4 linked regions of the Homo sapiens genome follow. The protein of the gene in region 1 purifies or fractionates together with the protein of each later gene. This does not show direct contact. Each region holds a gene or a part of one and is shown in the gene's direction. Other genes may lie near its edges.

Region 1 (3,500 bases):
CCAGCGGGTCAACAACCGTCTCTTGCTCCCCCATCACACTTGCCGTGGCAGGAGTCACCAACCATGGCCAGAAGAGACCCTTGGTGACTCCCCAAGCTGCCCCCGAACCCAAGCGTCCACACATCGCTCAGGTGCCAGAGCCCCCACCCAAGGTGGCCAACCCCCCGCTCACACCAGCCAGTGACCGCAAGAAGACAAAGGAGCAGATAGCACATCTCAAGGCCAGCTTTCTCCAGAGCCAGTTCCCTGACGATGCCGAGGTTTACCGGCTCATCGAGGTGACTGGCCTTGCCAGGAGCGAGATCAAGAAGTGGTTCAGTGACCACCGATATCGGTGTCAAAGGGGCATCGTCCACATCACCAGCGAATCCCTTGCCAAAGACCAGTTGGCCATCGCGGCCTCCCGACACGGTCGCACGTATCATGCGTACCCAGACTTTGCCCCCCAGAAGTTCAAAGAGAAAACACAGGGTCAGGTTAAAATCTTGGAAGACAGCTTTTTGAAAAGTTCTTTTCCTACCCAAGCAGAACTGGATCGGCTAAGGGTGGAGACCAAGCTGAGCAGGAGAGAGATCGACTCCTGGTTCTCGGAGAGGCGGAAGCTTCGAGACAGCATGGAACAAGCTGTCTTGGATTCCATGGGGTCTGGCAAAAAAGGCCAAGATGTGGGAGCCCCCAATGGTGCTCTGTCTCGACTCGACCAGCTCTCCGGTGCCCAGTTAACAAGTTCTCTGCCCAGCCCTTCGCCAGCAATTGCAAAAAGTCAAGAACAGGTTCATCTCCTGAGGAGCACGTTTGCAAGAACCCAGTGGCCTACTCCCCAGGAGTACGACCAGTTAGCGGCCAAGACTGGCCTGGTCCGAACTGAGATTGTGCGTTGGTTCAAGGAGAACAGATGCTTGCTGAAAACGGGAACCGTGAAGTGGATGGAGCAGTACCAGCACCAGCCCATGGCAGATGATCACGGCTACGATGCCGTAGCAAGGAAAGCAACAAAACCCATGGCCGAGAGCCCAAAGAACGGGGGTGATGTGGTTCCACAATATTACAAGGACCCCAAAAAGCTCTGCGAAGAGGACTTGGAGAAGTTGGTGACCAGGGTAAAAGTAGGCAGCGAGCCAGCAAAAGACTGTTTGCCAGCAAAGCCCTCAGAGGCCACCTCAGACCGGTCAGAGGGCAGCAGCCGGGACGGCCAGGGTAGCGACGAGAACGAGGAGTCGAGCGTTGTGGATTACGTGGAGGTGACGGTCGGGGAGGAGGATGCGATCTCAGATAGATCAGATAGCTGGAGTCAGGCTGCGGCAGAAGGTGTGTCGGAACTGGCTGAATCAGACTCCGACTGCGTCCCTGCAGAGGCTGGCCAGGCCTAGACAGGTAATTCCACCTGCTCACCCAGGCAGCAGGGGAGAACGCAGCTTGCTTTCTTTTCGTTGCCAGGGTTAATATAGATTGTAGGGTACAGAGATGTTGACACAGATGGTGGCGTCTTTTTCTTGTAATTAACAAATAAGAATGATGTATATTGATCACATACAATATGATGTTTTGAAATATGTTTACCTAGTGGGATGGCTCAGTTAAGCTGATTCCCGTATGCATTACCTCACATACTTATTCTTGTAGTGGAAGGGTCTGGTTTTGGTTTTGGTGTTTTGTTTTGTTTTGTTTTTAGTGACAGAGTCTTGCTCTGCCACCCAGGCTGCAGTGCAGTGGCTCGATCATAGGTCATTGTAGCCTCAAACTCCTGGGCCCAAGCGATCCTCCCCCCTCAGCTTATCAAGTAGCTGGGACTTCAGGCATCTGCCACCACACCCAACTAATATTTTAATATTTTGGTAGAGACGGGGTCTCACTTTGTTGCCCAGGCTGGTCTCAAACTCCTGGACTCAAGGAATTCCTTTGCATCTGCCTCCCAAAGTGCTGGGATTACAGGCATGAGCCACTGAGCCCGGCTGATGAGTTATTTGTAAAGGTTCTTTGAAAAAAGAAGAAAAATGGGGGCTGATGGAACCTACGTCCTCATTTGTAAGGCTGTGCCCAGGGGGCAGCACCGCTGGCTGTGGCCTGTTTGGGCTCCAGCCTTCAGGCCTGTCCATTCTGAAGGTTAGTTTTGACTGTTAGAAAACACATCCTCCCTCTGTGTGTTTTGTGTTTGTTGCTGTAAAAACACCAAACATGAAGAGGTTGTTTCTTTTTTTTTTTCCCCCCTTTTCTTTTTGGATTTTTTAAGAATACATATCCAAGTTTACTGAATCAAAGACCTGAGCTTATTTCTTCTAATCTGAAAAGGCTTTGAAAGTGCTTGATATTTGCCTTGTCAGGGCAAAAGGAAGGTGCCACTGTGCTTGGGTCCCCATAACCCCTTCAAATCTGGAAGAGCCGGGTGTAAATTAGGCCTGTAGAGTCACATAAGCCGGGGGGGGGGGGGTGGCAGGGCGGTTTCCATGGTTACTAATGGCCATGTCATCCCCATAATGGGACATGCCACTGAAGCCCTTGGTATTCTGCTTCCTAAGAGGTCAGTGCAAATCGAGGCCTGAAGCACAGCAGCTTGGTGGTGAGTTGAGAAATGGGGGCAGTGGCAGGGGGAGGGCTGGTGGGAGGGAAAGCAAATATTACAAGGAGGAAGATGCACGATTTGCCCAGGTAGGCTTCTCCAGAGGTCACTTAAAATACCACGGAATGGGCCTCCCAAGTTATCTTTACAAAATATAAAATAAAGGTAAGAACCTCCAGAATGATTGATAAGGTCCCAAAGGCAGCCCTGGAAATTACCACACCTCTGTCTTAATGAACTTGGACAACTTTGGCTGACCACGTCGCTCATTAACTCATTGATTCACTAATAAAATGAGGCAGCTGACAAATAAATGAAATTCTCTAGAAACCTTGTTTTAGCCAGTTCCATCCGCTATTAAAAGAGCACTTTAACGAGCAGCCAATCCCAGAATGCCATCATGTTCCATTCTCCTTTCTCCTCCCACTTGCAGGAGGAAATGCCTGTGTGTCAAGGGTGTGGGCACAACCCAAAGGGGAGGGCGTGAGTGAAAGGAAGGGGATAGAAGTGTACTGAGGTCACAATGACAGCAACTTCCCACCTCTACCTGGCCACCTCTGGCCATTCTCCCACCTTAGAAGAACCTACCAGTCTAGCCCATACCTCCCTCATTAAAATGAGGGAGTGATTTTTTTTTTTTTTTTTTTTTTTGAGACAGAGTCTCACTCTGTTGCCCAGGCTGGAATGCAATGGCACGATCTCAACTCACTGCAACCTCCACCTCTTGGGTTCAAGCAGTTCTCCTGCATCAGCCTCCCGAGTAGCTGGGATTACAGGCATGCGCCACCCCACCCGGCTAATTTTCATATTTTTAGTAGAGACGGGGTTTTGCCGTGTTGGCCAGGCTGATCTCAAACTCCTGACCTCAGATGATCCACCCACCTTGGCCTCCCAAAGTGCTGGGATTACAGGCGTGAGCCACCACGCCCGACCTCCCATCTTC
Region 2 (3,500 bases), on another chromosome or scaffold:
CATCATCTGGCTGTGATTTGCTACCTTTCATGAGTAGTACAGACAGGACTTGGAATCAGATGCCCAGCTGCTCTTCAAACACTGAGCCCATGATATCAACAGCTCAAGACAATTAACAGGGACTGCAGTAGACCACTAATTTTCTACTCTCATCCATTTACCAATTTAATATAACAAAACAGTCATCAGTAAATGGTTACAGGAAAGGCTTCTGATAGAAACTAAGAGAACTCTATTTCCATTATTTATTTGCTGAAATTTAGAAATGCATTTCCTCAAGGCTGGGCACAGTGGGCTCACACCCATAATCCCAACACTTTGGGAGGCCAAGGTGGGAGGACTGCTTGAAGCCAGGACTTCGAGAAATGCATTTCCCCCACAGTTAGAAACAAAATTAGAGACTGATCACTGGTTCTGCTTTGGAGTAGATGAATTTAGCCTACCTGTCAGCTTTGTCCTTGCATGTCCAGCAATGTGCTTTTATCTAGGAAATATGTTTCAAAAACTACGCACAGCATAAAAATATAAAACAGTTTATTTTCTAAATGTTTGAATATGCCATAAGCAAATCATGCTAAAGAAAAAAATGTGTTTAAATACTCTATCATTTAGTAATCTTATCCTTTTTTTCCTAAGCCTGAAAGATATGCATTATTTCCTATTTTACTGGTGAGGAAACTGAGGTTCAGAGTTTTGAATAACTTATCCATTAGCACACAACTAGTTGTGAGCAGGAAGTAGAATTAGGCTTACCTAGTGCAAACAAAAAGCTTTTTAAAATCATATTGTGGGGTATCATAATTGAAGTTATAAGCCATTGTGAAGACATGGAACCTTAACATATGCTTCTACTCTATGTGCTTGCTGCTGCACGTTCCATTATATTCCATTATACGCAAAGTTGCTGATGGCAAAAATTGGAAAGATTTGAGTTGCTTGTAACAGTCGACCCAAATAACAATGACTTAAAATGAGAGATTTTATTGTTCTGTTACATAAAACAAGTCTGAAGGACATTCAGGGCCAGCATGGTGGCTGCATGGTCATCAGTGACCCAAGCTATTTCTGTTTTCTGTTTTACTATCCCATTGCAAGACTTCTGTCTTCAAAGTTACCTTTTGGTCCAGGAGGAATTCCAGCAGTTTCAGATAGTGGGAAGGCCAAAGGGATGTGCCTTACAACTGAGTCAGCCCTGTCTAAGCAGAGTCCCACACAGTCATTCCTTTCATCTTAGCCAGAACTTCCATGGCCACACCATGCAGGCGTGTGAAGCTGGGAAATGCAGTCATAAAGAGTGTCACATTGCGCCCCCCAAAAAATTGAGGTTCAGATACTGAGAAATATGGAGAATGCATATTGAATGGCAAGTCACTGTCTCTGCCATAGCTAGAAAAAACTCCTCACAACCTATGTCTTATACCTTCCCAAACCACATAGGCAAACGACGAAAATCCAATCCCAAACCCCTTGTTCTGAGTGAAGCTAGAAAGCAGTTAATGATCTACAGACTACCTCAGGTTCTCCGGCTGCACCTTAAAAGATTCAGGTGAGCTTGCTGTGGGAGTCCCAGCTGGGTGAGAGCTGTGGGAATAGCTGCTCCAAAGGCTTTGGTGAGGGCAAATGTCTTCTATGGTGTTGGGAGGGGAAGCCTGTTCACTTGAGACCTCGTGTTTTCCATGGAGATTAAACTGTTCACATCCACTAAGGCAAATTGATGTGGGAGCCCAGCAGGACTGGGCTTTTGCTCTCATGCTCCTGTGTAATTAATTATCCAGCCTGCACTGGGTGTCTGTGCTTAAAGATTTTCTAGCCTGGCTTGGACTTATGTAGATTCATCTTCAGGATGAAGTATAAAATAATCTGCAAAAGAAGCACAGGCAGGAAACTACAAAAAGACTGTTGCTTGAATTGCTTGTTTAGGGATCTCTAGGTTTAGAGTACTTCATGGAACATTAACAGCAAATAAATGGGCCAGGCGCAGTGGCTCATGACTGTAACCCTAGAACTTTGGGAGGCCAAGGTAGGCAGATTGCTTGAGCTCAGGAGTTTGAGACCAGCCTCGGCAACATGGTTAAAACCCTGTCTCTACAAAAAATGCAAAAATTAGCCAGGCATGGTGGTGTGCACCTATAGTCCCACCTACTCGGGAGGCTGAGGTGGGGGGATCACCTGAGCTCGGGAAGGTTGAAGCTGCAGTGAGCCTTTATCAATCACACCACTGCACTGCAGCCTGGGCAACAGAGTGAGACCCTGTCTGAAAATAAATAAATAAATAAATAAATAAATAAATAAATAAGTGTGAACATTGATTACCACCATTTTATTGATGGGAAAACCAAAACCAGAAGGTTAAATTTTCTCAGTTTCCTGTTTTATTAATACCTACCTCTACCTACGATTATATATGCCAGTTTTTACTAGTAACAAGCTTATATCCATGTTCTAGGTGGTCTGGCCGTAATCATCGAGAGAAGATTGGGGTCCATGTCGTCTTTGACCAGGTATTAACCATGGAACCTTACTGCTGCAGGGACATGCTCTCCTCTCTTGACAAAGAGACCTTTGCCTATGATCTCTCCGCAGTGGTCATGCATCACGGGAAAGGGTTTGGCTCAGGACACTACACAGCCTATTGCTACAACACAGAGGGAGGTGCGTGCGCTTTACTCTGTGGGGTGGGGGACACGGAAAGGGGTTGATTTGTCCACATTTTATTGTTTTCCTTTTATTTCCATCCCATGGATTACCTAGAGGGAAATTACATACATCAAAAATCCAGTGGAAAGAATTGTGAAAATTGGGTTGGGCGCCGTGGCTCACACCTGTAATCCTAGCGCTTTGGGAGGCCGCGGTGGGTGGATCACCTGAGGTCAGGAGTTCGAGACCAGCCTGGCCAACATGGTTAAACCCCGTCTCTACTAAAATAGTACAAAAATTAGCCGGGCGTGGTGGTGGGCACTGGTAATCCCAGGTACTCAAGAGGCTGAGGCAGGAGAATCGCTTGAACCTGGGAGGCAGAGGTTGCAGTGAGCCAAGATTATGCCACTGCACTTCAGCCTGGGTGACAGAGCAAGACTCTTATCTCAAAAAAAATAAAAAGAATTATGAAAGTTGGATTCAAATTTTGGGTATATTACTAAGTAACAACATATGGTTGTTCTAAGAATTAAAAGGAACTGACATGTAAAAGTGCTTAGAACAGGACCTAGGCCCTGTGCAATGGCTCACACCTGTAATTCCAACACTTTGGGAGGCAGAGGCGGGAGGATTGCTTGAGGCCGAGGGTTCAAGACTAGCCTGGGCAACATAGCGAGACTGCATCTCTACAAAAAATTTAAAAATTATCCAGGTGTAATGGTGTGCACCTGTGATCCTAGCTACTTGGGAGGCTGAGGTGGGAGAATTGCTCAAGCCCAGGAGTTTGAAGTTGCAATGAGCTATGATTTCACCACTGCATTCTAGCCTGGGCAACAGAGTGAGATCCTGACTCAAATAAATAA
Region 3 (3,500 bases), on another chromosome or scaffold:
TTGGGGAGCTGCCAAGGAAGGCCCCAAGGAGTTTGGATGGACGCAGGCATCGGTGATGGGACCCCCAAAGAGGACTTCTCTTCCTGCAGCTCCGGGATTGTGGAGGGCTGCGGGAGGTGGAGGTGACTGCCTGCCTGGTGTGGAAGGACTGGCCTCACCGAGTCCACCCCCACAGCCTCGTGGGGAAAGACTGCACCGACGGCATCTGCAGGGTGCGGCTCCGGCCTCACGTCAGCCCCCGGCACAGGTACCCACCCCCTGACCTCCGACCTCTCATCCTTGATCATGGAGATTCTAAGCGACTGGAGGCCACCCATGAAACTTTAGAGCAGAGGGCAGCTTGGGTAAACCCTCCCCACTGCCTCTTCTAGGTGGGAGACAGGCCTGGGGACAGTGGAGGGCCTCACTTAGGCCTGGAGCCTTGCCACACACATATTCACATACATTTTATCCCTATTTTGTAGAGGAAGAAACTGAGGCTCAGAGAGGGTAAGGAGCACAGATAATTGATGACAGAGCTGGGATTTGACTGCAGACCTGACTTAACTGCAAGGTCTGTTCTTTCTCTTACTTTACAATTCATCTTTTTTTTTTTTTTTTTGGGACGGAGTTTTGCTCTTGTTGCCCAAGCTGGAGTGCAATGGTTCGATCTCAGCTCACTCCAACCTCCACCTCCCGGATTCAAGTGATTCTCCTGCCCCAGACTCCCGAGTAGCTGAGATTACAGGCATGCGACACTACACCCAGCGAATTTTTTGGATTTTTAGTAGAAATGGGGTTTCACCATGTTGACCAGGCTGGTCTCGAACTGCTGACCTTAGGTGATCCTCCCAGCTCGGCCTCCCAAAGTGCTGGGATTACAGGCATGAGCCACCGTGCCGGCCTTTTCTTTCTTTTTAAAACAGAAGCACTGTATAACTTTTATTTTGCATATGTCCACAAATGCTTACACAACATACAGTGGCTACATCTAAAACTTTGAGCATTTTTTCATAGTGCAAAGAGACAGAAAGGTAGTGACACACTTCACTGTGTTACACTGACTTTGGGTAGAGCCCTAAAGGCAGCACGCACTTCAGAGGTAGGGCTGAGTATTGCTCACACTCAGGTCTGGAAGATTTAATTTTAGAAATTTTTAAACTTAGTGAAAATATAAGTTCCGAGAGCAGAGATCTTGTCTCTTACATTCCCTGCTGTATTCCGAGTGTCTGGCATAGTAACTGGCACATAGTAGGTGCTCAGGAAATATTTGTGGAATGAATGAATACTGCCATGTTATGCAATTTACAGACCCATCAGTAATGGGTGAGAGCACCTGATTCTCCACAACCTCACCAGCACCGAGTATTATGAAACATTTTGATTTTTGCTATTTTGATGAGTGCCCCAAAACAAAGGCATCTTCATTGGTGTTTAATTTGCAGTTTTCTTTCCTTCCTTCCTTCCTTCCTTCCTTCCTTCCTTCCTTCCGTCCTTCTTTCTTTCTTTCTTTCAGACAGAGTCTCGCTCTGTCGCCCAGGCTGGAATGCAGTGGCGCGATCTCGGCTCACTGCAAGCTCTGCCTCCTGGGTTCAAGTGATTCTCCTGCCTCAGCCTCGCAAGTAGCTGGGACTGCAGGCGCCCACCACCACACCCGGCTATTTTTTTTGTATTTTTAGTACAGACGGGGTTTCGCCGTGTTAGCCAGGATGGTTACCATCTCCTGACCTCGTGATCCGCCCGCCTCGGCCTCCCAAAGTGCTGGGATTACAGGTGTGAGCCCACTGTGCCCAGCCTCTTTTTTTTTTTTTTTTTTTTTTTTTTTTGAGACCGAGTCTCACTCTGTCACCCAGGCTGGAGTGCAATGGCACGATCTCTGCTCACTGCAATCTCTGCCTCCTGGATTCAAACGATTCTCCTGCCTCAGCCTCCCAGGTAGCTGGGATTACAGGCGCCAGCCACCACACCTGGCTAATTTTTGTATTTTTAGTAGAGACGGGGTTTCACCACGTTGGTCAGGCTGATCTCAAAATTCTGACCTTGTGACCCACCCGCCTCGGCCTCCAATTTTTGTATTTTTAGTAGAGACGGGGTTTCACCACGTTGGTCAGGCTGATCTCAAAATTCTGACCTTGTGACCCACCCGCCTCGGCCTCCCAAAGTGCTGGGATTACAGGCGTGAGCCACCGCACCTGGCCCTGAAGTTTTCTTATTTTATTTATTTATTTATTTATTTTGAGACGGAGTCTCGCTTTGTCGCCCAGGCTGGAGTGCAGTGGCGCGATCTCGGCTCACTGCAAACTCCGCCTCCCAGGCTCACGCCATTCTCCTGCCTCAGCCTCCCGAGTAGCTGGGACTACAGGCACCCGCCACCATGCCTGGCTAATTTTTTTGTATTTTTAGTAGAGGCGGGGTTTCACCGTGTTAGCCAAGGTGGTCTCGATCTCCTGACCTCCTGATCTGCCCGTATCGGCCTCCCAAAGTGATGGGATTACAGGCGTGAGCCACCACGCCCGGCCTGAAGTTTTCCTATTAAAGATGAAGTTGGCCAGTGTTCTCACATGGTAAAGATAAGGCATGTTCTGGATCTTCTCAAGAACCTTTGACATGCTTATTTTTATTTTTTGAGACAGATTCTTGCTCTGTCGCCAGGCTGAAGTGCAGTGGCATGATCTCATCTCTCTGCAACCTCTACCTCCCGGGCTCAAGCAATTCTCCTGCCTCAGCCTCCTGAGTAGCTGGGATTACAGGTGTGCGCCACCACACCCAGCTAATTTTTGTATTTTTAGTAGAGACAGGGCTTCACCATGCTGGCCAGGATGGTGTCCCTCTCTTGACCTCGTGATCTGCCCACCTTGGCCTCCCAAAGTGCTGGGATTCTACAGATGTGAGCCACCACGTCTGGCCAAAAGGTTTATTTTATTTTTTATTGTTTGAGATGGTGTCTAACTCTGTTGCCCAGGCTGGAGTGCAGTGGCACAATCTCGGCTCACTGCAACCTCTGCCTCCCGGGTTCAAGTGATTCTTTTGCCTCAGCCTCCCGAGTAGCTGGGATTACAGGCATGCACTACTATGTCTGCTAATTTTTGTATTTTTAGTAGAGACAGGGTTTCACCATGTTGGCCATGCTGGTCTTGAACTACTGACCTCAAGTGATCCTCCTGCCTCGGCCTCCCAAAGTGCTGGGATTACAGGTGTGAGCCACCGCGCTGGCCTTCTGAGAGGTTTAAACCCCAGACCGTTTCTAATGCTGGGACCCCTGGGCCTGGGATGTCAGCCCCTGAGAGCCTGAGCCCCACAGCAGCATCTGCCAGAGCCCTCCTGCAGGTTAGGGCCACACTTGCCTGCTCACGAGCACTCCTCTCCCTCCCCCGTCACCCCCTCAGTTTTAACAACCTGGGCATCCAGTGTGTGAGGAAGAAGGAGATTGAGGCTGCCATTGAGCGGAAGATTCAACTGGGCATTGACCCCTACAACGGTGAGCACCCCCTGCCTGACCTGACCATCCCGTCCTCCCAAAC
Region 4 (3,500 bases), on another chromosome or scaffold:
TTTTTTAGGAGGCATGGTGGGGGCAGGGGGAGGGGCTTTTACTTTGTTGCCCAGGCTGGTCTCAAACTCCTGGGCTCAAGCGATTCTCCCACCTTGGTCTCCCAAAGCGCTGGGATACAGGCGTGAGCCACTGCGCCTGACCGGCCAGTCTTTTTTCTTTCTTCTTTTCAGTTTTAAAAGTTTCTACTGAGGTTCCTCAAGCTCAGAGATTCTTTCTTCAGCTGTGTCCAGTCTACTAATGAGCCCATCAGAGGCATTCTTCACATGTTAGAAGATGCAGTTTTTTCCTCTAGTAGTTAAAAGAAAAGAAAAGAAACTAACCACTGTACTAACAAGGATACCTCTAGCATTTCTTTTGGTTCATTCGTTCATTCTTAGGATTTCCAAGTCTCTGCTTACATTGACCGTCTGTTCTTGCATGCTGTCTACTTTATTCGTTAGAACCCTTAGTGTGTTGATCAGTTTTAAATTCTTAGTCTGAAAATTCCCACACCCCTGCGCTATCTGGTTCTGATGCTTACTGTCTCTTCAAACTGTGTGTTTTGCCTTTTAGTATGCCTTGTAATTTTTTCCTGATAGCCAGATATGATGAACTGGGTAAGAGAAACTGACTTAAATAGACCTTAATGATGGGGTGGTAAGGCGGAGGGGGAGGGGAAGCGTTCCATAATCCTATGAGTGGGTCTCGGTCTTTTAATGAACTTCAGCCTCCAGACTACGAACTTCACAAGCGCTGCTCAGTCCCTCCACACCCGCTTCGGTGGAACAGGATGGCTAGAGTGGGCTGGAGTTGGGTGTTTTCCTTCTCCCAGGTTAGTTAAGCTCTGATAAGACCCCAGCAGGTTAGGCTCTGGTTAATGAGTTTCTCCTGTGGGCAGGCTTTACGAACAGGGTGCTTTAGCCTATTTCAGAATGGTTTCTTTCCCTTCTTCTTGCCAGAAGCATGAGGAGATTTGTCTCTAATATTTACCGTGCGAGTGTGGTTGGGCTCCTGGAAGGAAAATTCACAAAGTGTGGTCCCCCTGTGACTGGATTCTTTGGAGTTTTTAACTCTCAGACTCTGCACTGAGCCTCTAGCAATTCATCAATTACAGTTCAGGTTTTCCTACGCAGACCTGTTCCCTCAGAGGTTTCTGCTCGGCAGTTTTGGCTCTGGTAAGTCTGTGATTCTCTATGTTTGCTGGTCTGTTTTTCCAGTTTTGGGGGCAGTGGTTTGTCCTGTGACCTCACTGCTCTTTCAGCTCTAAGAAGAGCTGTTTATTTTCCTTTCGGTTAATTCTTTCCTTCCTGAGGGAAGGAAAATAACCAAAAGCTTTATTTAGCTTTTAACTTGTTAGGACAGAATGGTGACTTCAAAGTTTCCTTACGTGTTGAACTGAAAACTAGATGTCTCTCATCATTGCTTTTGGTGTTCAAATTGTTCAAAATTGGCCAGTGGGAGCCCCTTCAAGTCAGCTCCTGGGGCCCCATTAGTTTATTAGGGTATGCTTACCTAAAATGTATCATTTTTAGGTGCACAGTTCTATGAACTCTGACAAATGCATGCAGTCATGTAACCATTACAACCAACATATAAACCATTTCCATCACCCCAAAAAGTTATCTCATGCTCCTCTCTAATCATTCTCCTCCCTAAGCCTATAGAAATTGTTGATCTGATTTCCGTCCCTATAATTTTGTTTTCCAGAACGTGCTATGTCATACTGTATGTAGCTTTCAGAGTTTTTCTTTCACTTAGCATGATTCTTTTGTGTTGTTGCGTGCATTAGTAGTGCCTTTTTTATTGCTGTGTGCTATTCCTTTTTGTGAGTGTACCATAGTTGCTTATGTCTCCACCAGTTGATGGACGTTTGGGTTGTTTACAGTTTTGCATAGTTAGGAATACAACTTCTACAAATACTAGCAGATAGCTTGTTATGTGGGCCTAAGGCTTCATTTCTCTTGGGATGATACCTAGGTACAGAATTGCTGGATCACATGGCATTCCCTTAGTTTTTTGAAAACAGGGTATCTTGCTTTCTGACACAAGAATGTCTCAGTCGCGGTAATTTCCCGGCCTCAGACCTCCATCAGCCATTTTTCCAAAATGAACATAATTATATTTTTAAAAGCTTCTGAGTAACTCTGATGTGAGCCCAGATTTACAAACTTAGGATCCATGTAACAATACAGAATGTGAAAGATTTTCACAAAATGTTCTTATTAAAACATTAAAAAAAAACAAACAAAAACTCAGAGCTTGAAAACAGGACATTGCCAAGACTACCTGTGCTGAAAACAAGATAAGGAAAAGCTGAGCTAGCTTGGTTAGAATAAATAGGCTCAGCTGGAGCAAAAGCCTCAGGAATTATCAATGGGGTTTCTGCTTCCCCCAATGTTGAGCCTTGGTTATCCCTTTCTTTTTGCCCTGCTAGATTCAGTTTAGCTTGAATCTTTGCTATCTCACTCCTTGATTCAAATTCCAGTCTCATTTTGGTGAGGCTTGTGGATGCGGTATTTAAATAGATAAGAAAAAAGTAATTTATAAGTCTGTACCAAATAATCTTTCCAGGAAATTACTTTTTTTTTTTATTTTTTATTTTTGGAAAGGAGTCTCGCTCTGTCACCCAGGCTGGAGTGCAGTGGTGCGATCTCAGCTCACTGTAACCTTCGCCTCCCAGGTTCAAGCAATTCTCCGGCCTCAGCCTCCCGAGTAGCTGGGATTACAGGCATCCACTACCATGCCCGGCTAATTTTTTTGCATTTTTAGTAGAGACGAGGTTTCACCATATTGGCCAAGCTGGTTCTAACTCCTGACCTCAAGTGATCCACCCGCCTCAGCCTCCCAAAGTGCTAGGATTACAGGCGTGAGCCACCTTGCCAGGCCAGAAGTTCCTTTTTTTTAGAGACAGGGTCTCACTCTGTCACCCAGGCTGGAGTGCAGTGGCACAATCACGACTCACTGCAGCCTCAGCCTCCCTATGCTCAGGTGATCCTCCTACCTTAGCCTCCTGAGTAGCTGGGACTACAGGTGAGAATTTTATGTAGAGACGGGGTTTTGCCATGTTACTCAGGCTGGTCTCAAACTCCTAGGCTCAAGGGATATGTCCACCTTGGCCTCCCAAAGTTGTGGGATTACAGGCATGAGCCACTGTGCCCAGTCAAGAAATTACTTTTAAAATACTCGGAATTTGTCATGTAGACAAATGAGTGGTTCACAAGCTTACTTTGTATTTCACACATTTATTATACCTGCAGGTTTGACATTCAGGGTACAACAAAAAGGAAGCTGAGAACGGATATTCATTACCCACTCACTAACTTGGACCTCACTCCTTATATTTGCTCAATTTTCCGGAAATATCCTAAATACAACCTCTGTGCAGTGGTGGTGAGTAAAAACAAACTGTTAAAAGTAATCCAATTTTAAAGAAAACTCCAGAATTATCTGCTTGAATCCCTATTTCTCCTGTCTCTCCCTGGCTTATGCCCTACTTTTAAAAAATATAGACCAGGAAACT

What was found.
Region 2: the proteins of ZHX2 (region 1) and USP49 purify together in Homo sapiens (affinity purification with western blotting, with the first as the bait; one study listed by BioGRID). This does not show direct contact.
Region 3: the proteins of ZHX2 (region 1) and RELB purify together in Homo sapiens (affinity purification with western blotting, with the first as the bait; one study listed by BioGRID). This does not show direct contact.
Region 4: the proteins of ZHX2 (region 1) and USP50 purify together in Homo sapiens (affinity purification with western blotting, with the first as the bait; one study listed by BioGRID). This does not show direct contact.

The regions. Positions count from the first base shown.
Region 1 is NC_000008.11:122,952,655-122,956,154, forward strand, and holds part of ZHX2 (zinc fingers and homeoboxes protein 2), read left to right. Parts: coding exon 1-1,370; 3' UTR 1,371-1,374; exon of another isoform or gene 1,375-2,883; intron 2,884-3,500. UniProt on the Homo sapiens protein: Acts as a transcriptional repressor. Represses the promoter activity of the CDC25C gene stimulated by NFYA.
Region 2 is NC_000006.12:41,797,876-41,801,375, reverse strand, and holds part of USP49 (ubiquitin carboxyl-terminal hydrolase 49), read left to right. Parts: intron 1-1,437; coding exon 1,438-1,546; intron 1,547-2,446; coding exon 2,447-2,652; coding exon of another isoform or gene 2,653-2,699; exon of another isoform or gene 2,700-3,500. UniProt on the Homo sapiens protein: Deubiquitinase that plays a role in several cellular processes including transcriptional regulation, cell cycle progression or innate immunity.
Region 3 is NC_000019.10:45,021,964-45,025,463, forward strand, and holds part of RELB (transcription factor RelB), read left to right. Parts: intron 1-89; coding exon 90-247; intron 248-274; exon of another isoform or gene 275-509; coding exon of another isoform or gene 510-553; intron 554-3,365; coding exon 3,366-3,457; intron 3,458-3,500.
Region 4 is NC_000015.10:50,529,667-50,533,166, reverse strand, and holds part of USP50 (ubiquitin carboxyl-terminal hydrolase 50), read left to right. Parts: intron 1-939; exon of another isoform or gene 940-1,155; intron 1,156-3,237; coding exon 3,238-3,370; intron 3,371-3,500. UniProt on the Homo sapiens protein: Deubiquitinating enzyme that removes conjugated ubiquitin from specific proteins to regulate different cellular processes. Regulates the inflammasome signaling pathway by deubiquitinating 'Lys-63'-linked polyubiquitination of the PYCARD/ASC adapter protein.